Homo sapiens: one gene and its partners. The protein of the gene in region 5 purifies or fractionates together with the protein of the main gene of each other region. This does not show direct contact. Each region holds a gene or a part of one and is shown on either strand. Other genes may lie near its edges. The genes, in order: ITPRID2, SIPA1L1, CYBRD1, DENND2B, MYO19, SIPA1 and ACTR2.

Region 1 (3,500 bases), on a different chromosome or scaffold from region 5:
TGTGTGCTGAAATAGATGTGTTTATAATTAATTTTATTCTTTGTATTTGTCTATAAATTTAACTTTAAACATTAACACTTACCTGTTTAGAACTTTAAGCTAAAGTTCTATCATAAAGTTGAAAGGCAATTTTTAAAAGAAAGTTTATATTGAAATAAGTAGAAATTTTCATGTTATATGTGTGAAAAATCAGTTATAACCTTAAAAAAAATTCACATTAGAAACTGACATATACTATTGCCACACTTAATGTTAAATCATGTTTTCCTCTTAAGATATTATTCATTAATAGCTTTTAAATTTAATAATTAGTACCACATATATGGTACATATCTTCCTCATTACTTATTTCTAACCTGTTAAAGAAATTTAACTGGTTCCCTATACGTTTTTTTATTTTAAGCACTCAAGTGAGAGTAGTTAGTTTCATGTTGCCACAACACAAAAACACCCTTCAAAAGCTCCTGGCCCTGTTCTTATCTATCTGTATATCACTTTTAATAATGCAGATTTAATGGACCAAGATAAGTGTTTAATATATTTGGCATTTAATTCTAATATTGTAGGTAATTAGATTTCTTGATAATTGTATCATAGTAGTTATAGTCCTACTAACAATTGTGCTCTACGTTTATTGTTTTTACCTGTAGCCAACCACCTCCATGAAAGTGATGCTCAAATTGAAAACTGGTATGTAGCTGTTTTGTTCTATTTCTTTTAAAAAATGAAGACCTTTAATGAAAATAAAGTTATAAAGTTTTATATAATCTGATTTTGTTCGTAGCAATAATATCTTGGCCAAAGAGAGAAGATTACAGTTTCATCAGAAAGGGAGAAGTATGAATTCCACTGGATCTGGGAAAAGTAGTGGGACAGTTTCAAGGTAACTTATTCTGAAATTGTGTTGGAATTACATTGTGCTATAGATGACCTACTCTTATCATTTTTTCAATCTTGGATTTGACCTTGATCATATGAAATCAGAAAGAACACAAAAAGAGCGTTTCCTGTACCAGCACAACTGATAGGAGCTTTTTGTTTTGTTTTGTTTTGTTTTGTTTTACTTTGAGATTAAATAAAATGCAATAAATAGGCTTATACTGCTGCTGGAACCCATAAATGAGTATTTTGAGCCCTCTCAACAGCCTGAAAGAGGAACTCCATAGCGGAGTAACTTGTAGTTGTAGAGAACCAAAATTCATTGTTAAGGACTTGAGTTAACTCTGACACAAAAATCAGAATAAATTTTTCTAAGTTACAGCTTGATATTTAAGCATACTTTTTTTCAACACATTAAACCAAAGATCTTTCAAATATATAGTATAGCCAGGCCCAGTGGCTGACACCGGTAATCCCAGTGCTTTGGAGTGTCAAAGTGGGTGGATTACTTGAGCTTAGGAATTCAAGACCAGCCTGAGCAATATGGGGAAACGGCGAAACCCTGTCTTTACAAAAAATGCAAAAATTAGCTGGGTATGGTGGGATCCACCTGTAGTCACAACCACTTGGAAGGCTGAAGTGGTACCCAGGAGGTTGAGGCTGCAGTGAGCTATAATTGTGCCACTCCATTTCAACTTGGCTGACAGAGTGAGACGCTGTCTCAAAAAAGCCAAACAGAAAAATACCCTTGCCCCTCTCCCGCCCGCACATATAGTATATTAAAATACATCAGTGCATGTGCCTATGGAATCCAGTTTAAACTGTTATCCAAATTATAATATTAGAATCTGAGCATTTTGTCTGAAACAAATTGAAATGTCTCTCTGTTGAAGTTCCATCTCTAACTTTCCTGTTTTCTTCAGTGAGTCTTAGAAAGCTTGGATTATCACTGGTATGAGAGAGAAGGGATACTAAATATTTAATTCCCAATAGGATTAGAGTAGTTACCTTTGTGTAACCCACACTCTCTGTACCTTACTCCTCCTACTTCCTGAGTGGAAGTGGTTGGAGAGAAGTTGAAAGTAAGCTCCTCCCTCGCTTCTCTGAAATCAGCTTGTTATCTTTATTGTTCCTCCTAGGACAATTGCCACTCCTAGGACAAGGATAACAGAAAAGCTCAAATTTCACAAAATGTCCCTCAGTTCCTTTTAATTTCTGCTTTAATCTGTTCATTCCTTATTCTTCATCATCTGTCTTCTACTTGTTTTAGCTGCTTTACAGGGAATCTCTTAAAATGACAAAACAAATAAGGTGAGGAATCACGTAGGGAATCTCTGACTGTGTTCGTTGGGGTTAGCTCTTTTCTGCAACTCTAGCAACTTGAGACAATGAACCCTTTATAAGGGCTATTTATTCCCCAGTACACATGTGTAAACATGGTAAAATAAATAATGGTTTCCAGAGCAGAAGCTGAGAAAAAAGATTTTATCACAGGAAATCAGTAATATGTATTCATTTATAATGTGGTGTGGACTATCAATTTATTTTATATTTTCATGTTTCCTTTTTTGCCCCCTTTTTTTGTAGTGTTTCAGAATTGTTGGAACTTTATGAGGAAGATCCTGAAGAAATTCTTTATAATCTTGGATTTGGACGTGATGAACCAGATATTGCTTCTAAAATTCCTTCCAGATTTTTTAATTCATCATCCTTTGCCAAAGGGATAGATATTAAAGTATTTTTGAGTGCTCAGATGCAACGGATGGAAGTAGAAAACCCAAATTATGCTTTAACAAGTAAGATTTTTAAGTGTTAGGCATATTATTTTCTTAAATTATAGCATCTACAGCAAGATGGTCTTATTTTAAAGCCTTAATTTTCAGGAATAGCACTGGAAAGTAAAGAGATTGATTAACGCAAAAGCCATTTTTACATGTTAAAATTAAGCTATTTTATTACTCCATTTATAGTGGTTAATTTGCCTATTTTTCCCCTCCTCCCCAATTCCTGACTTAAGTGCTACCATAACTTATTTGCAGAACCTTATTGTTGTCTACAGATTGCTTTTATTCAAGAAGAAAAGAAGTAGGAGAGGAGCCTTGTTAATCTTAAATGAAGTCAGTCTGTTTCAGGAACTAGTCTGGCTAATTTGATCAGTTTCACTCATATCTTTGCTTGTTTTCTTTCTGTTAGCCAAAGATTCCAAAAATAGGATTCCAATCCTGCATTGTTCATGGATCAGTTTTAAGAGATCAATAAATCCCTCACCCTGCAAATTAGGTATAAAATATATGCTTACATGCATTTTCTTAGGAGAATTTTGAAAGAGTCTTAATGGAGTTCAAGACTTCAGAATAGAATCACAACTGTAGATTCAATAGCTAGTTCTTTCTGTTTTATTCAATGTTGCCATTATGCTTTGTGCTTATTTCTGATTTTTTAAAAATACAAATTCTAGTGCTTAGAGTAAAAATCTTGCTCCTTCCCACCCAGTGAATGTAGAGAAGGTTTAAGTGTTAGATGAGGAAAAAATAGGGTTTTATAATCTTTGTGATCTAAGTGTAGTTTTTGGAATTCTAAACAATAATATGCATTTAATATATGTGTATGTATATATATAA
Region 2 (3,500 bases), on a different chromosome or scaffold from region 5:
CATGCAAATCTTATGTCACATTGTTAATAAATATCTTAATATACAGTACTTTTCTTCAGAAAGTACTGCAAAAGAAAATGTAAGAAATAAAGGATCTCTACTTACCCTTCTGGTAGAAAAATTTTCTATAATAGTATGCACCCAGATCTACGTGTTCCACGATGTATCTTTTCACTCTATCTAGGTGCAACACCAAGTTCTCCTTGGGCACTTCAAGTACTGCCACTCCTGCATTTGTGCAATGGGAACTAAGGGTAGACTCAAAGGAGGCACTTTCACATCCACTAAAGGAGCCAGAATTTGATTTTGAAAGGCTGATTTTCCTCTCCCCTTCTCCACCTATCTCATTCCGAAAATATGGACAGCTCATTACAAGCTCATTGCTTTTATCATCTCCCTGGTCCATGCTGAGGCTTCCTTTGGAATTCAGGTCCTCTGTGCTGCCCATTGGGGAGCTAAAACTGGCTGAATGAGACAGAGGTCCAGAGACCAAGGATGCCACGGCAGCTGCGGAAGCTCCAGTGGTGGTGTTTCTCCTCTTAATAACATTGTGCCTGTTCATAATTGCCTCATTCAAATCAAATAATATACTCTGGACATCATAGTGGGCAAAGCACTTTGGACATGTCCAGGGCCTGACAGAGTCTTCTGATCGGTTATCTTCAAGATCTGATGACTTCCCAAGTTCTTCACCTTTGGCATTGCGCAATTTACGAAAAATAGATGAGTCTCCAGTTTCAGATTTTGAACGTCGCTTGAGTGGTTTTTCCCTTTCCTTAAAAAGCCTGAGGTTCTCTCTCTGTGAGATAGGCCCGTCTATTACATCCAAAGAGAAACCAGAACCCTTGCCACCACCAGTAATGAGAAAGTCACTGAGCTTGGTTGGAGTTGGACCTCGATCAGATTTGTCATCTTTGTAGCCCTTTAACAAATCAAAAAAGCTTTCTCCAGATGTTCCCTGTTTATCAATTGAAGATGTGCTACCATATTCCCTGTGCAGTGATGGTCCAGTCTTGTATGTAGGTGAGATACATTCATCAAAGCTATCCACATCAAGTTCACTTATGGTGATATCACTGTTGCTTCGCTGGCGTATTCTGCGAAGAGCTTTTCTGGGGGAGCTGGGGTAGGCTTCAGGCATGAGAAATCTGGAGTCCATGTTCTCCGACGGTCTTGTCTTGTTTTTCAGCGTGTTCTGTATGCTTTTCAGCATGGCTGAGTCATTGGAATTGAGGCTAACAGAACTTCCCTGACTCACAGGACTGCTTTTGGAGGACAGGCTATCAAGGCAACTTGAGGTTTCTATTTCCTGGCTTGAACGGCTAGATTCTTTTATGTTTTCCTTTCTTGGGGGCCAATCTGCAATCCTTGCCCTTACCCCCATTTTTGGGACTCCGGGGGTTGAGGTTATATGGTGAGAACCTTCACTTCGGGGGGGTCCTACAGGAGCCATAACTGATGATCCTAAGCTGCCATTTTGGGACCGGAAGCGCCGCATGTAGAAATCATCAGTGTGGACTTTGGGGGTGCCGTCTGTGCCAACAACAGAGGCCCTGTCAGTGGCAAGAGGCCTTTCTGTCTGTGACCGTTTCAAGCTGGTCATGATGTAAAAGCAAGTAGACTTAAATCCCTGCAGCAAGGACCATCATATCTGTGTTTTAAATGTGCACTTCCCTTTTGGAGAATGGCTTCCAGAAAATACAACAGTTGCATGAGATCTTAATCTTTTTCATTTAAAAGGTTAAATGATGCTTTATTTGTAAAGCACTGAAAAATTGGAACTTCTAAACGTTATAATCCACAACAGTTTCTTTGCTTCACTTTAACAGAGGGCTTTCTTTCAGAAAAAACTGAATGGAACTTGTACTACTGAGATTCTGTGGTTGCCATAATCCCATGCTTTCTCTAAAAGAGAAAAGGATAATTTGAATTAGCAGATAAATACATCTAAAAACAAACATGCAATTGTCAAAACCAGACACATGAAGATAAAAGACTCAATAATGGATTAGGATTCACAGTTCCACAATCCGTATTTTTAGTAAAGCAGGTTTGAAAGAAAGGAAGAAAGTAAAAACCATTTGATAAAATCCATAATTTATATTCTAAAAAAAAAAACTATTAAGACTTCATCTTAATTGAACTGTTTCATAAAATGGGGGGCAGGGGGAGGGGTACATCTTGTTCTGGATATCATGGCTCCTACCCAAAGTACAGACTTTTGCTCCAATGACCTCTAAAAATGTAGAACATCATGAGCTACTGTGATGACCAGAAGTTTGAGATGTAACCAAGTGAATAAGATAATTAGAGCAACAGAGTTTTTTGACAAAAGTAAAAACTGAAAAATGACTTTACTGAATATGCTGCAACAATCACTTTTTAACTCCTCTATTCCAAAATCAATACATGTTTTTTGTTTCCTTACAAAGGCTTAACATAGTTGGCAAAAACAAATACAGCAGGAAAAAATAAATAAAAAGAGTTTTCCCAGAGCCATTATATCCATTAGCACTCTTTTGTATTTTCCTCTACTTTATTACTTACCGAGACGAGGATATTGCAGAATGAATCCAGCATTCACCACCACCTCTTCCCAAGCTCTCCTTAGTTTCTTGTACTCTTAAAAGCTAGAAGTATCTCACTAATGAACAAAATGCCTGCATTTCCTCATGCAGTACAACCTACTCCACCCCATCAGTGCTAATTTATGAAGACGGCAGAAACAAAACACAGCTCTGGGTGGCCCTCTCCATATCCCCAACAGATTACAGAGAACTGTTAGCATCCTTCCAGGTGACGGGCATGGAAACAAACTTCCTCATGAGCACGTCAGGCAGAAGGCAGGAGACACAGATTCTGAGTACAAAATTCTGCATGGTTGCGTACATTCTGAAAAGAAAGGCAGAGGCTCCTTTTCCAAGACTCCACAAATTACACAAGAGGTGGCCTTTAAATTCTTGCCAAATACATGTTTGGAAAGATGCTGCTGAACCAGCACTGAGCTGACAGGGCGGCATTGTCTACAAATCACGGCTCTGACACCGGAGGACGACCTGCACTTGCTGCACTCTCCACTCAATGGTAACAAGCACCTACTTCCACGATAATTAAGCATCTCCCTAGTCGGCTTCCTGCCTCCAAGGCAGGCGCTTTCATTTCTCTTGCAGCACACAGCATCACTTTAGAAGACTCGCTGCTATTTAAAGGCTGGAACATGTAGGGGTGTTTCAAAAAAAAAAAAAAAAAATGCATGCTGCCTGCAGAATGCAGGGTGAGGCGAGCTCTGGCTGGGCTCGTGCTGGCTGAGTCTGTGGAGCCATTCAGATAAATGCCATTTGTTTTCACTAGCACTCCTCTTCACCATCTTTTGTAAAAGGGATAATAGTTTTGCACTGCTACCTAATTAAACATGGCTTTTGAGCTTTCTAGATACTTCTACTGTCAGACTGCTATTATTCCCTTTACATTCCAGAACTTTACATGTTCCTCTTTCAATG
Region 3 (3,500 bases), on a different chromosome or scaffold from region 5:
GATGCAAGTATTAGCTAATAGAAGACCAAATGGCCCTTTCAAATAAGTAAAAAGCATTCTGCACTTGGACCCACTTAACAACTTGAAGTGAATTCAAAAATAAAATAAGAGTAAGTTATTGAGTTTGAAGTACACTGGAATTTTAAAACACTTATGAATTCTACTTAAACATGGTGTGCTCATTACACTTCCCTTCCCTCTTTGAATAAAGTATTATTTCACTCTCCTTGGCAGAATGCTCAGAACAGGATTATCAGTCTCCACAACTCATTTCCCTCTGCACGCAAGAGCTTACCAGATTCTATCCAAAGGACCTTAAGTTTAAATGAAAAAGCAGAGAATCTTCTTTAAATAAACTTCTTGAAAAGATTCCTGCAGTGGCTGTCAAAGAGAATCAGAGCTTTGAAACATGTCTGTGCATTCAAACTGTCTCACAGCACGAATGTCATGAAACTGAAAATCTCTGGAAAGTCAAAATGAAGGAAGTGATTCAGATGATTTGGAAGATATTTTTAGCCCTAGAAACATCTCTGAGTGATTAAAATCCTCGCAAAGGCAGCTACTTGGTACCAAATACATGTAGAAAAAGAAAAAAATTCAATTAATTGACTACACATTTAAAAATATTCAGAAATTGTGTGTTTTCAGAAAGATCAGCTATATTTTCTTGTGCCTCATATCAATATTATGACAGGTTAGAAAGAGTACTGGCTTTGATACTACCTGGTTGTCTGACCCTGGCCAGACATTTGGTCTCTAAAATGAAGGGTAGAACTTAAGGTCCCAGCCAGCTCTAAATATTTAAGGATCAATATAACCTACATTTCTAAACAAAACAACAAAAAACCCCATCATAATTTGAGCTGGGACGGTGCGGTGGTTCACAACTGTAATCCCAGCACTTTGAGAGGGGTGGAAGAATCACTTGGGCCCGGGAGGTCGAGGCTGCAGTGAGTCATGATTTCGCCACTACACTCCAGCCTGGCTGACAGAGCAAGACCCTGTATCAAAACAAACAAGCAAAAAGAAAGAAACCATAACTCGTGTCCAACCAAATTAAATGGGAACAGCTTGCAGACCGAGCTGTATCTTACTTGTTTTACACAGTGTCTGGTACACAGTAAGTACTTAATAAATATGTTAATTAAATGGATAGGATAATATGAAGAAATTGAATGAACAACAACAAAAACTTAGAAAAGTACAGCCAAAGTCTGTATAGTCATTTCAAAGCTTGTTTTGACCTTTTAAGGAAGTCTCTATATAAAGAAAAAAGTTATAACAAAGATTTCTAGTCTTTCTTTTTTTTTTTTTTTTTTGAGACAGGGTCTTGTTCTGTCCCCAGGCTGGAGTGCAGTGGCATGGTCATGGCTCACTGCAGCCTCAACCTCCCAGGCTCAAGTGATCTTCCAGCCTCAGCCTCCTGAGTAGCTGGGACTTACCAACACACACCAGCACGCCTGGCTAATTTTTGTATTTTTTTTTGTAGAGATGGGGTTTCACCATGTTGCCCAGGCTTGTCTCCCTACTTGGCTTCCCAAAGTCCTGGGATTACAGGCATGAGCCACTGTGCCTGGCCCTCTATCTTTCTTAAAAAGGAAGAATGTTCTACCTTTTAAGGGAAAAATTTAAAACCTTGCAAAGTCAAGTCAGAAAACCCTAGCAGGAGTCACCTGTAAACTGGAAGCTATGGACTGGAATTTGGTCCAAAGATGTTGTTTTGTTTGATCAGCCCAATGTTTTGGAGGTTTTGTTTTTGTGGCTGGTTTACTTTTTGTTTGAACCAATTTTTTAAAAACCTGGATTCTCTCGGGAGAATGAGAAGCCCTGGCAACCTTGAACTGGCATCCTCACGTAGCCACGATCCACTGGGGCTAAGTGGAAGCTTCCTGTTTTGCCAGGAGTGAGCACTCTCTAGTTCCCTACAGTTCCCACCTCTCACACAAGTGTACACCTATACTCTGCTGCATGAGGATTTGACCTTTAATTAACTGCCTTAGTAAACAGATAAGTGGTTTGTCACCAGTTATTAGGCAACGCTGGTTATAATAAAAACTGACCCAATTGGTAAACTGTGTCTGGACTGAGAGAAACAATGAAAAATCTGTAAATACCTGATGACGATGCCAATACTTTGGGCTTCCCAGAGTGCAGTGATAACTGTTATAGCCTATATTAATCCCCTAGAGCTACCATAACAAATTACCAGAAATCTAGTAACTTAAAACAACATATTTATTATCTCTCAGTTCTGGAGGCCAGAAATTAAAAATCAAGGTGTTATAATAGCAGGATGGTCCTGAGGGAGAAGCCATGCCATACCCTCTTCGGCCTCTAGGGGAGCCAACAATTCTCCATTTTCCTTGGCTTGTGGCCACATCACTCCAATCTCTGCCTGTCTTCACATAGCCTTCTTCTCTGTGTGTCTTTGTCTCAAATCTCCTTCTCCTTTCTCTTATAAGGGCACCAATCATAGGATTTAGAGCCCAGTCTAAATCCAGGGTGACCTCATCTTGAGATCCATAGTTAACATCTGCAAAGATCCTATTTCCAAGTAAGGTCACATTCATGGATACCTGGGATTAGGATTTAGACATACCTTTTTGGGGGGCACTGTTCAACCCACTACCTATCCCTTGCAGGGATCATAGAAGTAGGTATACAGAGTACTACAAAAGACAGTGGTTCCTATGGGGCAAGGGGACTTTAAGCTCTGATCTCACCAGTGCAGATCTCATCTCCTGGTGCCTGAGCTGTTACCTGAGGAAAGGATAGCTTACTGAGGGCTATGATGACTGCTGCTGCAAGGATGCCCACTGCCACTGCCCAGCCACTGTCCTGCCAGCAAGCTCTGACTTCTGTCCTACATCCTTCTGAGTAGACTGGTGTTCAGTATGGTCTTAATAGTCTCTCATGTCTTTTTTTTTTTTTTTTTTTTTTTTGAGACAGAGTTTCACTCTTGTTGCCCAGGCTGGAGTGCAATGGCATGATCTCAGCTCACCGCAACCTCTGTCTCCTGGGTTCAAGCGATTCTCCTGCCTCAGCCTCCTGGGTAGCTGGGATTACAGGTATGCACCACCCTGCCCGGCTAATTTTGTATTTTTAGTAGAGATGGGGTTTCTCCATGTTGGTCAGGCTGGTCTCGAACTCCCGACCTCAGGTGATCCACCTGCCTTGGCCTCCCAAAGTGCTGGGATTACAGGCATGAGCCACCGCCCCTGGCAGCAGTTTCTCGTGTCTGAATGTTTAGTTGAATCCAGAAAGACACCCTGGTGGGTGCTGTATACTAAATCTACTTCACCTATTTACTTTGTACTCCAATCCTTGTTGGTGTGACCCTCTGGTTTAAAGAACTGGCCAAACTTCCATCAATTTAGTAAATATTCATTGAATGTTTATTATGTGTTGGGTAATGCTATGGATACAGCATTGAAGAAAACAGACAAAATCCCTTCCTTCTGGGAGTTTATATTCTAGTAGGAGAAGACAGACAATAAATT
Region 4 (3,500 bases), on a different chromosome or scaffold from region 5:
GGCAGGGTTTCCCAGTAGAGAAAGCACAAAGATTTATCCAAGGACCCTGGAATGTGAAGGTTCCAGAACCTTTTCAAGCTCCTCTCTGGGGACAGGGGAGATGGGGGACTGCAGGGCCTCCAGAGAAACAGTTTCCTCAGTCTACGGCACATTTCTTGCCAGAAGAGGTCCTTGTAATCTTCTGTACCCCTCTCTGACCCTCCAGATCTACAATTTTTTTTTTGAGACAGAGTCTTGCTCTGTCGCCCAGGCTAGAGTGCAGTGGCATGATCTCAGCTCACTACAACCTCCGCCTCCCGGGTTCAAGTGATTCTCCTGCCTCAGCCTCCCAAGTAGCTGGTATTACACGCGCCCGCCACCGTGCCTGGCTAATTTTTGTATTATTTTAGTAGAGATGGGGTTTCACCATCTTAGCCAGGCTGGTCTCGAACTCCTGACCTCGTGATCTGCCCGCCTTGGCCTCCCAAAGTGCTGGGATTACAGGCATGAGCCACCGCGCCCGGCTGAGATCTACAACATTTACCAGGCAAATCTAGCACCCAACTCCCATGGACAATGGCTTGGGACAGTTTGGGCAGGTCACCACCCTTACATTTGGCAAAGGGAGACATCTGGATTTAACCTTGCAGGGCTGAGCTCACATGTCTATAAGGACAGACTTCCCTGTGGCTCCCTGCTCTATTGTTCTGGTATCTGGCCTGTCTGTCACCTCTCCACATCAGGCCGGTTAGGGACACTGGAACCACACATGCATCGGAAGGGAAGGCTGATTCCCTGCAGCCCTGCTGGGAGAGCTTCCGTACTCATGGGAGCTGTGCCTCACCTTTGAACCTGTCATCAGAGTCGCTCTCGCTCTCACTGTTTTCATCTGGAAAAGGAACAGCAGAGTACATACTTGCTGGACCTCACAGCCAATGTTTTTTGCTCCCCCACCACCCCAGCTTTTCTCACAGGGGATGGATCTCTACCTTCTCTGGGCTACTCTGGGCCCATGGTCAGGCATCTGCAGGCAGGGAGCTGAGTGGCCTGGGGCCAGGCTCCTTCAGAGCTCACACTGCGAATCCTATATTCAAACCCATGAGGGAAGCTGAGGGCCTGAGTTGGAGGCTGAGCCAGAAGAGGGGCCTACAGGCCTGGAAAAGATGGACCCTGCCTCCAGGAGGTCAAGATTTGAAATGGGAAACAGACCGCAATGCTCAGTGAGTCTGGCCTTTCCTTTTGCAGAAGCCGATTCCCACACCCACCTCCCTGCTCAGGGCCTCACAGCCCAAAGTCTGAAGGAACCCATCCCAGACCTTTCTTCCCTGTCTGCTCCTCCCTCCTACGTGGCCATTTCCTGGCAGGGCTCTACCCTCCACAGGTAAATTGATGCCTCTCCCGTTCCTAATGCCCAAGGGCCCCAAACAGCTGAACCAGCTCTGGCACCAAAGCCTACCTCTCAGTGATGCTGTTTCAATGCTGGACATAGACAACTTTTTTAATCTCTTCTTTCCTCTCTTGGCATTGTAGATGGAGTTAATTCTTTGGACAAGCTGGGTGAGAAAAGCAGGATGGGTGAGGTAACCTTAACACCAGCTGCCCTACTTCCAAGAAGGCTGAGTAGGAGCCCATCCCTGCCCTTAATGGTACAAGCTTTCTGCATTGCACCCGCTGGGTCCAGGACTGGTCTAACTGCAGAACCGACCTCAAGTGGTGACTCACCAGCCATGCATGGTAGCTCTCCATATACCTAGTCCCCCAGGAGTGGTCTCCTGCCCCAAGACAAGGACACTAAACTTAGCTCCCCAGAGGAAGGAACTGTGATCAAACTAGACAGGATGGTAGCTCCTGGGTCCCAAGAGTCATTGAACCAACTGAGACAAAGAGCCTCTGAGATGCAATAACAGGAACAAGGATTCTAGCCTTTCCCCTCTGGGCCATAACCTGGGGCCCCGACAGGAAGAAGCTAAATTCCCAATATACCCAAGCATTGTTTGCAGGTTAAAAATACCATCTGGCTAAATCCTGCTGCGTTGGGCTGGGGATTTGGGCCTGGCTGCCTATGTGTGAAAATCATTGCTGAAAATTCTTCAATGCTGAGAGTTATAGGAAGAACCCTTGTTTGAGTCCTAGGTCCTTGAAAGCCTGGAAATGCTTATGTGTGCGGATACCCCAAAATTCATACACCACACTTACTAATGGGGAACCTCGGCTAGACTTTCCTTCCTCTAACATCTGAGCACCAAGGTCAGTTAATGCATCTTTATTGATAAGAAAGGGGAATTAATCAGATGAAAAAGAGGCCAGTGCACGGACCCAGAATTTATTCAAAGGGAATCGAGGAAGCAGTCCAGATTAGGGAAGGAAGGAAGCCAGGAAAGAGAGAGAAAGGCTGGCTGCCTGCCCGCCCACCTGCCCGGCTCCAGTGGGCTGCCTCTGGGGAGGGTACCTTGGGAATGCGGCGGGCCCGGCGGCTGGACAGCAGCTCGCTGGTGGTGCTGAGGCTGTCTTCATTGAGGCTGGAGGGTGAGGACGGCAGACTCAGCTGAGCCAGCAGCAGCATGTCGTCATGGCTGTGCCTCTTGGGTAATCGTGGCAGCCGGTGGCTCTTCCTTTCTGACCAGTTCCCACTGCGCAGGGACTGGCTGTTGGGTTTCAGGGAAAGCTGGCGTGGGGGAGAGGACGTGCGAGAGGGGCTTGCCACAGAGGCCTTGGCCAGTGTCTGTCTGCTGGGATGGGGACACAGAGGCCAAGGGCCGGCATCCCTGGATCCCCGCCATCTTGCCCTGGAACTTCCATCCCTCTCTTAAGACTTTAGCTGCTAATCAGCCAGGTCAGGGATAGATTAGATACTTGCCTTCCCTAAAGGAAGCTTCACTACTGCCAGCAAAAAACGAAAGCAGAGGCTAAAAACACCTGTGCTCTCATCTGAGTGGAAAAAGAAGACTAAGTGGGAATTTTGCGGGGGTCCTCCTGAGCTATGGGACAAGAATTACTGGGCCTGGGTGATGGAACCAGTCTTCCGGACCTCTGCTCCCGAGCCAATCCTAAAAGGTTTCTGACAGCAGAGGCCATAACCTACTGGCCAGCCTGCTGGGCTGGGAGATCCTGCAGCCTGGCCCTCCTAACTGCTCCCATGGAGAACACAGGGGCTCTGGGCTCTGACCACCAAAGCTGGGCCAGGCAGGCCTCACACTGAATTGGATCCCATACCCACAAGGCCCTGGCTGCCCTCTCCCCAGCCCTGATCTACTCTCTGCCTCTCTCCATATGCGCTGACCTCTCATCCCAGGGCACCATCCTTGTCGCGGACCCTGTCAGGAGGCAAGTATCCCACAGACACCCAACCACTGTCTGGTTCTGGAATTGCCTCTCCTCACTCCTCAGCAAATCCTCCTTCCTCCACAGCCCCCAATTTCCTGTTCTCACCCAATCAATCTGGCAATGCAAACTCAGGGGAAGCCTGTTTGAAAAGAGTCCTAATTAGAGGGTAAATCTTTTTTTTTTTTTTTGAGACGGAG
Region 5 (3,500 bases):
GGTTCTTTCCAACACTTTTCCTTTTCAAAATAAGACCACTATGAACATGTTGGTTAATACATCTTTTCATCTGATGAACTCCTTTTGGTTTTTACCTTCTCCTTAAATTCATTCCAGCCCTAGAGCCCAGCAGGTAATGGTTTGAGTTGTCATAAAGGGAAAAAAAGTTGGCCTAAACAGCTGTCAGGGTCTGAGAAAGGAATTAAAGACAACGCTTAGACAACGCTTAGCCTCCACTTCTTACAGAGCACCTTTGTTTGTGGAGTGACTTGGTTTCCATTGAACTGGAGAGACGTTATGAGTGAGGGGGACAGGGAATTTGAATCCCAGCACACCACAGGGACATCTCTTCAGGCTGGGACACAGCTTCAGGAGATGGGGACTCGACGAGCTATGTTTCAAAGGAAACCAACATCCTGTGGGGTCTGTGAGCAGTGCTGACAGGTGACCTGCCCACCTACCTGCCTGGATGAGCATGACGGCCCGCCACTGCCGCTCCTGCTCTCGGTGCCGGTGTCGCCTCCAGCCACCCTGGATGCAGCGGGCACACTGCTCCAGCACCCGGGCACGCCCACATTCCAGAAGCTCCAGCTGGGAGAAAAGGCATCCATTGAGGGCAGCCTCTTCTCCCCCTGCCCCCTCCTGCTGAGGAGAGCACACAGCTTGCCTCTGTAACCTCCTCATCCCCAAACCAGCTCACCATAGAGTCAGTCATGAACACCTTGGTCCTGCCACAGTGCATGGGGGCTGGCATGGCCTCAGCCGAGTCACCAGTTATGGCTGCTGCCTGAGTTAGGACCGGCAGAGTGTGGAGAATGTCCTGGATGAGAGGTTCAAGCGTGGCTTCCTCGCTGTGTGGACACCATTCTGGGGGAGGGAGATGGCCCCATCAGTGCATGGTCATCTCTACATGCCTCTGTGGCCTGAAGAAACTGGCTTTGGCCTCCCTAGCACTCTACAGGTCTCTTTCCTGCTGTTCTTGGCTCTAGCCATTTTCTCCTTGTTCTTCTTTTGGAGGAAGCCACAAACAGCCTCTCTGTTGTCCCTCAGGGTGCTAGCTGTTCCGTGGAGCCTTGGAATACCCACTTGCGCCTGTGTGTCCTGGGGTGTCCCACAGCCTCTACTGCCATGAGTCCCTTTGGGCAGGCTGGCAGAGGGTGCTTGACACCTGGAAGGGTGACTCCTTCCAAGCTTGGAATCCCAGGCTGCTCAGCCAGCATTTGTTTCCAAGGCCCAAACACACATCCTGAGGGCCAAATAGGGCAGCTATAGGCCACTCCCTCAGCCCCGACCCCTCAACTCCCCACCATGTATGGGAAAAGGGAGATCCAATCCCAGCCCTTAGTTTGGGAATCTTCTACTGCAAATAAAAAGAATAAATTAAAAAATAAATTTAAAAAATCCCAGCCCTGCAAAGGTCCCGTGTCCCACTGCCTGCCCTCCCGCAGCTCGCAGAGCTGACTCCTGGAGAGGTAGGATTTACCTGAGGGCTCTGACCACCTTAGATGCCCAGTGCCTCTCTGAAGACAGAGGCTGCCAAAGGAGACACCACAGATGAGAAACAGCAGCAAAATCAACCAGGGGCCAGAAGGGCTATGGGCAAGAGACACGGAACAGGACAGCAAACCATGGAGAGGGAGAAGAAAGGAGAAAGGGTGAAAGGAAAGTGAAAACTGCCCAGGAGGGGAGGAAACAAAGCAGGATTGCCCCAATGGCTGTGAGGGGCCCAGGGTAAGGCTGGGTGGGAGGGGCAGAGGTGCTGGGCTGGGGTCCTGCCGAGGCGGGGCCCCCCGGCAGCCTGTCCTTGGCCTGTTCTCCCTCTGCCTGTGTCTGGGCCCTGTGGCTCCCACAGCCTCTCTTTTATCTGCATGCCGACAACCCCCATATGAGGGCCTCCAGATCCTTCCTTTGAGACTAAAGCCTGCCTAAGTGCCTTGCAGACTTCTTCACTGGACCTGCAGGACAAGTCACCCATGCCCGGGCTCTTCAGCCTCCCTGAACCTCTTTTCCTCTTGCTTTTCCTCACTTCCCAGGCTAAGTTAATTTACTCCTTTCCTCTCCCTCTACATCTAGTCAAGCCCCTACCAAGACTGACCAGTTTCTTCCAACAAATATTTCCCGACTGTGCCCACAATTCTTGTTTCTCTCTATTGGGGCAACTTTGCAGCCTCAATCCCACAGCCCTCCATGGTGCCCCCAGAGTGGTCTCCAGAAAGTGTGAGGCTGATAAGAGTCATTTGCTCCTTCCCCTGCAGTGCCTGCTCATCTGCCCAGAGAATAAAGTCCAGATTCCTTGATGGAGCCCTACCTGCCACTCCAGCCTCACCTGCCCCAGTTCTCTGCCTCAATGAACCAGCAACACAGAACTGGCTGGAGTTCCTCATACCCACACTGCTGCCTCAAGCCTCTAGGCCTTTGTTCAGATTACATTTATCATGTGGACCACCCATCACCTGGCTAATCCAATTTATTCTCAGATACTACCTCTTCCAGGAAGCCTTCCCCAATTCACACCTCCCTAGCACCACCCACAGCATCCTGCTCATAGCTCTGCTTTTCCACTTTCCATGCTATTTGTCTTTTTTGAATCTGTTTCCCCCACTGAACCAAAACCAGGGCTGTGTTTTATTCACCAGTAAGCCCCAGCCCCTAGCCCTAAGACAGGGCACAGGGTAGATGCTCAGTAAACTGTGGTTGCACAAATGACTAACTCATGGGTCCCACTCACCAGGGAGCCCTTTGGCAGGATATGGGCTGTCGGGGCCAGAGGATGTGCAAGGATGAAGCCTTCTTAGTAACTTGTATCGTTCTACAAAGTTTCGGTGAGAGACCCTGGAGGCCAAAGCAGGCAGAAGTAGAGAATTACTTCATCTGTGAGCCAGGTTAACGGTTCAGGGCTCATCAGAAGTTATTCTATTTAATCTGCTCAACAACACAGCACGGTGCTGCCCTCCCCGAGTATCCCCACTGAATGTGAATGTGGTTTTGAAGCGATTTCTAGGATCACTTAGTTGGAAACCCATAAAGACTATTTAAAATGGGTCTGCTCTCCCTGCTGCCTTGGTCTACCAACACAAAGCATCTCTTGTGTTAGCAGGGGATTTGCGGGCTGCCTCCCTCCAAAGGGGCTGACAGGCCTCTCCCCAAACAATTGGACCAGTCCTATGACGCAGACATGCTTGGCCACATCTCCCCTCTGACCTCTCTGACCCCACAGTCTCCTCTGCCTCCCCCAGATCTCCCTGCTCCTCATCAAGGCAACACTTCTCAGACAGCTGCTGGCACCTGATATCTGCACTTCCTCCCAATTGCTTGTCAGCCCTCCTGAGTCTGGCTTCTGTCCCCAACATTGTACCAGTGTGGCTTTTGTCACAGCCATCAGCTGGGTACAAAATAGTGCACAATAAGTGAATGGATGAACGAATGGGTGCTGCTCCCTAGTTCCCAGCTGACTTCTACAGACCAGCCTCTTTCTCTTCATTTCCACATCTCACTCTGGG
Region 6 (3,500 bases), on a different chromosome or scaffold from region 5:
TCTGCCCCCCATGCTCCCATTTCTGTGCCCTCTTCCCGGCTCTTCCCTCTGCGGATAACTGGATAACCATGCCCAGCTCAAGGTGCTCTGAACTCCTCCAAACAGCACAGGCTCCCCTCCAGCGGTCACCTCCCTTTTCTACAACTAAACTTGTCTGCACTTACAGTCCCCACTTCGATTTCATTCCTCCCAACCCCCTGCACCCCCCACTCCCCATATGGTCCCCAGATGTGGCCTCATCCTGGTACCCTCTCAGCCATAGGTGGCACTGGGGATAGCTGGAAACTCACCTTGCCTAGGGCCCCAGGAACCCCGCCCTCTTCTGCCTGGGCCTCTTCTCCACCCATGCTCCTCCCCCTCCCTGGCTGCAGCAAGGATGACACCCCCATCTCCGCCTCCCATTCAGACCGGCCTACCAAACCCCGGGCCTTTTTCTCCGGCTGCCTAATGTCTCACCTTGCTGTGACTCCCCCACCCTGCTCCTCCTCCTTAAACCACCACTCCTGGGGGCCAAGAAGCTGGGAAATCCTAGCACTTCACCCCTTCCAGTCAGCCACATGACTACCCAGTCCTTCCTGGACTGTCACCTCCTCTTCACCTCCACTATCGCTGCCACTGTGTCTAGCCTGGGCAACTGCAATAGCCTTCAGCCTGGCATCCCCGCCCCGTACAGTCTAGTCCCCATGCTGCAGCCAGAGAGCTGCCCCTCTCAGATCTGCACCGTATCCCTCCATGGCTCCCCAGTGTCCACGGGAACAAATGCAAGCTTCTCCCCCGCCCCTCCCCACAATCCCAACCCCAGCCACGCTGAACTGACTGCCTAATGTGCCATGCTCTCATTCTCCAAGCCTTTGCACAAGTTATTCCTTCTGACCAGAAAACACCTGCTTATCCGGGCCTGAGCCCTTTTGTGTTCTCCATGCTGGAAAACCCTGGCCAAGGAAGGGCTCTCATCACTACCGTCGTGGCCCAGGCAGCCCTCAACATTCCCTTTCAGTGTTCCAGTACTGCTCCTGTGTTTCAGCAGTTCTCTGTGGGTCTCTTTCTCCCACCCAGCTGTGAGCTACTCAAGCAAAGCACCTGGTCTAGACCTGTCCCCAGCATCCAGTCTGAGGCCTGGCACCAAAAAGGTCTAAGAAATGTTTGTTGAATGACTGATGGGTTGAATGATACAGAGGAGAAGACTCAGCCAATGGGCAGCTTTCAGCATGGAGTGGGGGATGGAAGGAGCCGCTCCAGGAAGCTGTGAGCACCACATGTTAGAGGAAACCCAGCAGGGGCTGTGGGGGAAATTGGCCAGGAATGATGCGGGAACTGCAGGACCAGTGGGGTGAGTCAGACCAGGGCATCTAGGGCTGCAAATATCTTTTTAAAATGCAGACTCTGGGCCAAGGGCAGTGGCTCATGCCTGTAATCCCAGCACTTTGGGAGGCCGAGGTGGGCAGATCACAAGGTCAGGAGTTCAAAACCAGCGTGGCCAACATGGTAAAACCCCCATCTCTACTACAAATACAAAAATTAGCTGGGCGTGGTGGCATGCACCTGTAATCCCAGCTACTCAGGAGGCTGAGGCAGGAGAATCTCTTGAACCCGGAAGGCAGAGGTTGCAGTGAGCTGAGATTCCACCATTGCACTCCAGCCTGGGTGACAGAGCGAGACTCCATCTCAAAATAAATAAATAAATAAATAAATAAATAAAGTGCAAACTCTGATTCAGATGGTCTGGGGTGGGGCCCCAGAATCTGCATTTCTACATGATGTGGATACTGCTGGTCTACAGAGCTCACTTTGAGACGCAAGGCTCCAGATGAACTCTGATGCCCTGTCTCTGAAAAGCCAGCTCTTCTGGGGTCACCACCCAGCCCAGGATCAGGGTCAAGGCTAGGGGTTTGGGAGCTGGGCAGGCTGGGTTCAGACTGGGGCCAGCTGTATGGCTGGGGGCTCCGCGGCCCGCCACTCACCACTTGCTCATCCAGTGTGAGCAGCGTCCGTGGTACCTTGGGTGAAGCTGAGCCCAGGCGCAGGCAGCTGGGGCTCAGCTGCGGCGCCACGTGCTCCAGAAGTTTCCTTGGGGACAGACCCCGTGGGGGCCCCGGCGGCAGCGCGTCCTCCGAGATGGTGCCACGGAGTGTCCGGAGCTGAGGAAGGGGTGTAAGGGCACTCAGGATGCATACAAGGTGTCGGGGAGGCAACCCACGTCCTGATCCCGCGATCCCGGCCCACCTGCGTGGTCCGCACGATGACGCGGTAGCTGTGCAGGGTGCCCCCTCCGCTGCCCTCCTTCTCCTCCCGCCGCAGGCTCACTGCCACCGGGCCCAGCGACTCGTCCATCCCGAAGAAGTTCTGATGTTCTGGGGGACCGCGCCGAAGAAAACGATTGGTCCCGCCCTCTGGCAGCCCCGCCCCCGCTCGACCACGCGCATCACTAAGCCCCGCCCTAGGCTTCATCTCACCACCAAATGTTGACCCTAGACTAAGTCCCGCCCCTCTGTAGCCCCGAGCTCAATATCTTGATCTCAACCCTGACCCAGAGGTGGACCCAGACCCAGACCTAGACCCACGCGGCCAGCTCCCAGGCCTAAATCCTGCCTTGGCTCCACCCACCACGCCCTCATTCTCCCTTCTATGTCCTGGAGCCCTCTCTCCGCAGTGCTGGTGCGAACAAGGTTCACGGATGCAGGGATTTGAGGCCTGAGTTTTCACCCCACAGAAAAGCCCATAGGGAATCTCTCCCCAGCCTGGCAGGTTGAACCAGATGGAGGATGAACCAATACGGAGGCAGAGGGACCAGCCCTGGCTGGGGGTGAGGAGCCAGGGATTAGCCTTAAGAAGGTGGTTGAAAGTAGGTCCAGGAGGACCCCAGCTCAGCTCTTGAGCCCTCCCAGGGCCAGGGACTTTACAGGAAATGGACAGTTCATGAGCCCTACTGTGTGCACTGCAGGTGACAGGGACCTCTTCTTCAGCCCCCCTCCTCCACTCCCTGGAACTGCCTTTCCTCACCTTTGCCATAGAAGTATTTGCGGTAGTAGCCAGCACCCAGGTCTGCGTGCTCCAGGCTGTAGGCCGAGGTTCGGTTCTGTGGCTCCTCCAGGATGGACACGGCCGCGTTGGGCAGTGCAGGGGGCACAGGTGGGGATGCTGGTCCACCCAGGCCTAGCTCACCCTCACCCCCGAGCTCACACACAAAGCCAGGTGCCCCATGCAGCAGGTCCGAGCTGGCAGCCTGGTCCTCGGCTGAAGCCAGGGTCCCAGAGCTGGCCTCTGAGTGGCTCCCCATCCCCTGAGACCTCGGAGCCCAATCAAAGAGCAGGCTTTGCACGTCATAGTGGGCAAACCATCGAGGCTCAAGCACTGGTGGGAAGGCAGGCTCTGGTTCCTCTGCTGGCAGCCCCAGCAGTGCCAGCGGGTCAGTGAAGAGCCGGGTGGAAGTGGCTGCAGGTCGGCTGGCCTCTTCGTGGCTGTGGGCACGGGCACGGGGGCTGGCTGGCGTGGGGGGCCTG
Region 7 (3,500 bases), on a different chromosome or scaffold from region 5:
TGATAGTGTGGCTTCTCTCCATTCTCTGGCTGCTGGCCAGCATGGGGTCAAGTTTTCTAATCACCTTAATGAACTGTTAAAACTGCAGGCATCCCATTTCTTTGCACCAAATCTTATCCTGTTCTGTATTTGTCCACCCATGTCCCTCCTCACTTATTCATCAGCTTATTACTTTATACTTGTGTATATGTGTGTGTGTGCATATATATATCAAATATATATATGGATTTTGTTTTGTTTTTGAGACAGGGTCTCGCTCCTTCACCCAGGCTGGAGTGCAGTGGTGCAATCCTAGCTCTCTGCCTCAAAACTTGAGCCTTGAACTCCTGGGCTCAAGCAATCTTCCCACCTCAACCTCTCAACTAGCTAGGACTACAGGCACGTGCCACTACGCCTGGCAAATTTTTGTATTTTTTTTGTAGAGACAGGGTCTCATTATATTGCCCAGGCTGGCCATGAACTCCTGGCCTCAAGTGATCCTCGTATCTCAGCCTCCCAAAGTGCTGGGATTACCGGTGTGAGCCACTACACCCAGCCTATTTGTATATATTTTTGTAGCCTACCTCAAATTCTTTGAGAAAAGAGAGAAGGAAGAAATAAAACATGTTTTACATTCCTAGTTTGCTTATCTTTTGCCCTGTGCCAGCCACTTTCTTCCAAAATAGTCAGGTAGATGGAAAATCAGACAACTAGAGAAACTGTCAAGAAGACTTCAGGAAGGAATCTCCAGAGCAAATCTGGAGATGATTAAGTTACAAAATGGGTTTACTCCTAGAAGAAAACCTAGCCAATACCATTCAGGACATAGGCATGGGCAAAGACTTCATGACTAAAACACCAAAAGCAATTGCAACAAAAGCCAAAATTGACAAATGGGTTCTAATTAAACTAAAGAGCTTCTTGCATAGCAAAAGAAACTATCATCAGAGTGAACAGGCAACCTACAGAATGGGAAAAAATTTTTGCAATCTATCCATCTGACAAAGCCTTAATAACCAGAATCTACAAGGAACTTAAACAAATTTACCAGAAAAAGACAAATAACCCCATGAAAAAGTGGGCAAAGGATACGAACAGACACTTTTCAAAAGAAGACATTTATGTGGCCAATAAACATAAGAAAAAAAGCTCATCATCGCTGGTCATTAGAGAAATACAAATCAAAACCACAAAATCTCATGCCAGTTAGAATGGCGATCCTTAAAAAGTCAGGAAACAACAGATGCTGGAGAGGATATGGAGAAATAGGAACGCTTTTACACTGTTGGTGGGAGTGTAAATTAGTTCAACCATTGTGGAAGACAATGTGGTGATTCCTCAAGGATCTAGAACTAGAAATACCATTTGACCCAGCGATCCCATTACTGGGTATATACCCAAAGGATTATAAATCATGCTACTATAAAGACACATGCACACATATGTTTACTGCAGCACTATTCACAATAGCAAAGACTTGGAACCAACCCAAATGCCCATCAACGTTAGACTGGATAAAGAAAATGTGGCACATATACACCATGGAATACTATGCAGCCATAAAAAAATGAATGAGTTCATGTCCTTTACAGGGGCATGGGTGAAGCTGGAAACCATCATTCTCAGCAAATTAACACAGGAACAGAAAACCAAACACCAAATGTTCTCATTCATAAGTGGGAGCTGACAATGAGAACATATGGGCACAGGGAGGGGAACAACACACATGGGGCCTGTTGGGTGGGGGGCGGCAAGGGGAGGGAGGTATAGCATTAGGAGAAATATCTAATGCAGATGACAGGTTGATGGGTGCAGCAAACCACCATGGCACATGTGTACCTATGTAACAAACCTGCATTTTCTGCACATGTATCCCAGAACTTAAAGTATAATAAAAAATAAATTTAAAAAAATTTTAAATGGGGGTTTACTGAATATTTGGATCACTATCTTAACTTTTTTTTTTTTTTTTTTTTTACCGACATGGAGTCTTGCTCTGTCACCCAGGCTGGAGTGCAGTGGCACGATCTCAGCTCACTGCAACCTCTGCCTCCTGGGTTGAAGCAATTCTCCTGCCTCAGCCTCCTGAATAGCTGGGACTACAGGTGCCCACCACCTTGCCCAGCTAATTTTTTGTATTTTCAGTAAAGACGGGTTTCACCATGTTGGCCAGGCTGTTCTCCAACTCCTGACTTCAGGTGATCCGCCTGCCTCGGCCTCCCAAAGTGCTGGGATTACAGGCGTGAGCCACCGCGCCCGGCCAACAACAAATTTTTTATAATTACTTTAAAAATGACTATTTTGCATATATTTGTGAATATGTAGAGCTAGTATGCATCATATGGTTTTAAAATACTTGCCTTCATTGCCTATTACTGTTTCATTTTAGTAATAACTAGATCAAAGATGAGACCTGGAAGTACTTTATACTCAGACAAATTTAATAGGCTTAAGATGGTAATTCATTAAAAATTCAAGTAGGATCAACTCCTCTGGTGTTATAAACTATAACCAGGTACTAAATCTCATTAGTTACAATTTCAAGTTAACATTTAACACCTCATTAAAGAATATTAAGTCAGGAAAGGCTGCCACCTACTGAATTAGTAAAGCAATGCTCTAGAATGACCATTTCCAAAGTATGTTTCTTAGATCACTAATCCCATGAAATTCTGAAAAGTCCTAGAGCATAAGTCTGAAAAACACGCATACTATATTAATTGTGCCCATATTAGCATACCAAAGGCTCTGAGTTCTACAGTGAAGTGAAATCAACTCTTTCTCAAACTCATCTGACAATGTAATCCTTTTTAATTTTTGTGAAATGCTTATTAGCATCTCAGGGAAATAAAGTTCTGTAAAACATACATTGAGAAATGCTATGCCAAATACTAGAATCTCAAAATAACATCTCGCATCTAATTATATCCTAGTATAGAGAGTAATTTATGATTCTTGCCTTAATTTGCATTATATGGTGCCCTAAAATAATTAAATAGAAACTTAATGTAGAAAGAGACATTAAAAGTCACACATATACATATTACAACAACCCAAGACAAAAATACTGATTCTAAGAAAACCTCCTTAAGCTGACACCAATAATCATGGCTGTCCACTTTAAAACACATATATATTATACACTGGAAACACTTACTGTATAAGATTCAACTAATACTGTGGTTTCTAAGGCCAGTTTCTGCTCTTGCTCAATATTATATCCCACGTAACACAGTTTTTCTTTAATCATGCGAACCGTTTCAAAATCAGCAGAGTGGTTGAAGGCGTATCCTCGCAACAGAAGTAGCTGGTACAAAACAATAGCAATAAGTTCATAATACATCTGAATGAGTTCTACTCTGCAAAAGCTAGTAATGCTCATTAAATATGTCACATCAATAACAAACAGAATGGGCAGTGGATCCTCAGCTCCTACTATTTCAGAAGCAGGATTTTATCCGCCATAAAAGGATTTATATTTCAGTTTCAGAGAGGGTAAAAGAATTAACAATTCATAAGTA

The links.
Region 1: the proteins of MYO19 (region 5) and ITPRID2 purify together in Homo sapiens (affinity purification with mass spectrometry; one large-scale study listed by BioGRID and IntAct). This does not show direct contact.
Region 2: the proteins of MYO19 (region 5) and SIPA1L1 purify together in Homo sapiens (affinity purification with mass spectrometry; one large-scale study listed by BioGRID and IntAct). This does not show direct contact.
Region 3: the proteins of MYO19 (region 5) and CYBRD1 purify together in Homo sapiens (affinity purification with mass spectrometry; one large-scale study listed by BioGRID and IntAct). This does not show direct contact.
Region 4: the proteins of MYO19 (region 5) and DENND2B purify together in Homo sapiens (affinity purification with mass spectrometry; one large-scale study listed by BioGRID and IntAct). This does not show direct contact.
Region 6: the proteins of MYO19 (region 5) and SIPA1 purify together in Homo sapiens (affinity purification with mass spectrometry; one large-scale study listed by BioGRID and IntAct). This does not show direct contact.
Region 7: the proteins of MYO19 (region 5) and ACTR2 purify together in Homo sapiens (affinity purification with mass spectrometry; one large-scale study listed by BioGRID and IntAct). This does not show direct contact.

The regions. Positions count from the first base shown.
Region 1 is NC_000002.12:181,898,230-181,901,729, forward strand, and holds part of ITPRID2 (protein ITPRID2), read left to right. Parts: intron 1-650; coding exon 651-690; intron 691-784; coding exon 785-883; intron 884-2,466; coding exon 2,467-2,675; intron 2,676-3,500.
Region 2 is NC_000014.9:71,585,976-71,589,475, reverse strand, and holds part of SIPA1L1 (signal-induced proliferation-associated 1-like protein 1), read right to left. Parts: intron 3,179-3,500; exon of another isoform or gene 2,548-3,178; intron 1,906-2,547; 5' UTR 1,604-1,905; coding exon 106-1,603; intron 1-105.
Region 3 is NC_000002.12:171,528,974-171,532,473, reverse strand, and holds part of CYBRD1 (plasma membrane ascorbate-dependent reductase CYBRD1), read right to left. Parts: intron 1-3,500. UniProt on the Homo sapiens protein: Plasma membrane reductase that uses cytoplasmic ascorbate as an electron donor to reduce extracellular Fe(3+) into Fe(2+).
Region 4 is NC_000011.10:8,713,175-8,716,674, forward strand, and holds part of DENND2B (DENN domain-containing protein 2B), read right to left. Parts: intron 2,645-3,500; coding exon 2,429-2,644; intron 1,533-2,428; coding exon 1,436-1,532; intron 869-1,435; coding exon 824-868; intron 1-823.
Region 5 is NC_000017.11:36,500,369-36,503,868, forward strand, and holds part of MYO19 (unconventional myosin-XIX), read right to left. Parts: intron 2,833-3,500; coding exon 2,729-2,832; intron 1,594-2,728; coding exon of another isoform or gene 1,574-1,593; exon of another isoform or gene 1,491-1,573; intron 868-1,490; coding exon 701-867; intron 592-700; coding exon 462-591; intron 1-461. UniProt on the Homo sapiens protein: Actin-based motor molecule with ATPase activity that localizes to the mitochondrion outer membrane. Motor protein that moves towards the plus-end of actin filaments. Required for mitochondrial inheritance during mitosis.
Region 6 is NC_000011.10:65,641,101-65,644,600, reverse strand, and holds part of SIPA1 (signal-induced proliferation-associated protein 1), read right to left. Parts: coding exon 3,001-3,500; intron 2,352-3,000; coding exon 2,224-2,351; intron 2,139-2,223; coding exon 1,962-2,138; intron 1-1,961. UniProt on the Homo sapiens protein: GTPase activator for the nuclear Ras-related regulatory proteins Rap1 and Rap2 in vitro, converting them to the putatively inactive GDP-bound state. Affects cell cycle progression.
Region 7 is NC_000002.12:65,255,331-65,258,830, reverse strand, and holds part of ACTR2 (actin-related protein 2), read right to left. Parts: intron 3,287-3,500; coding exon 3,137-3,286; intron 1-3,136. UniProt on the Homo sapiens protein: ATP-binding component of the Arp2/3 complex, a multiprotein complex that mediates actin polymerization upon stimulation by nucleation-promoting factor (NPF).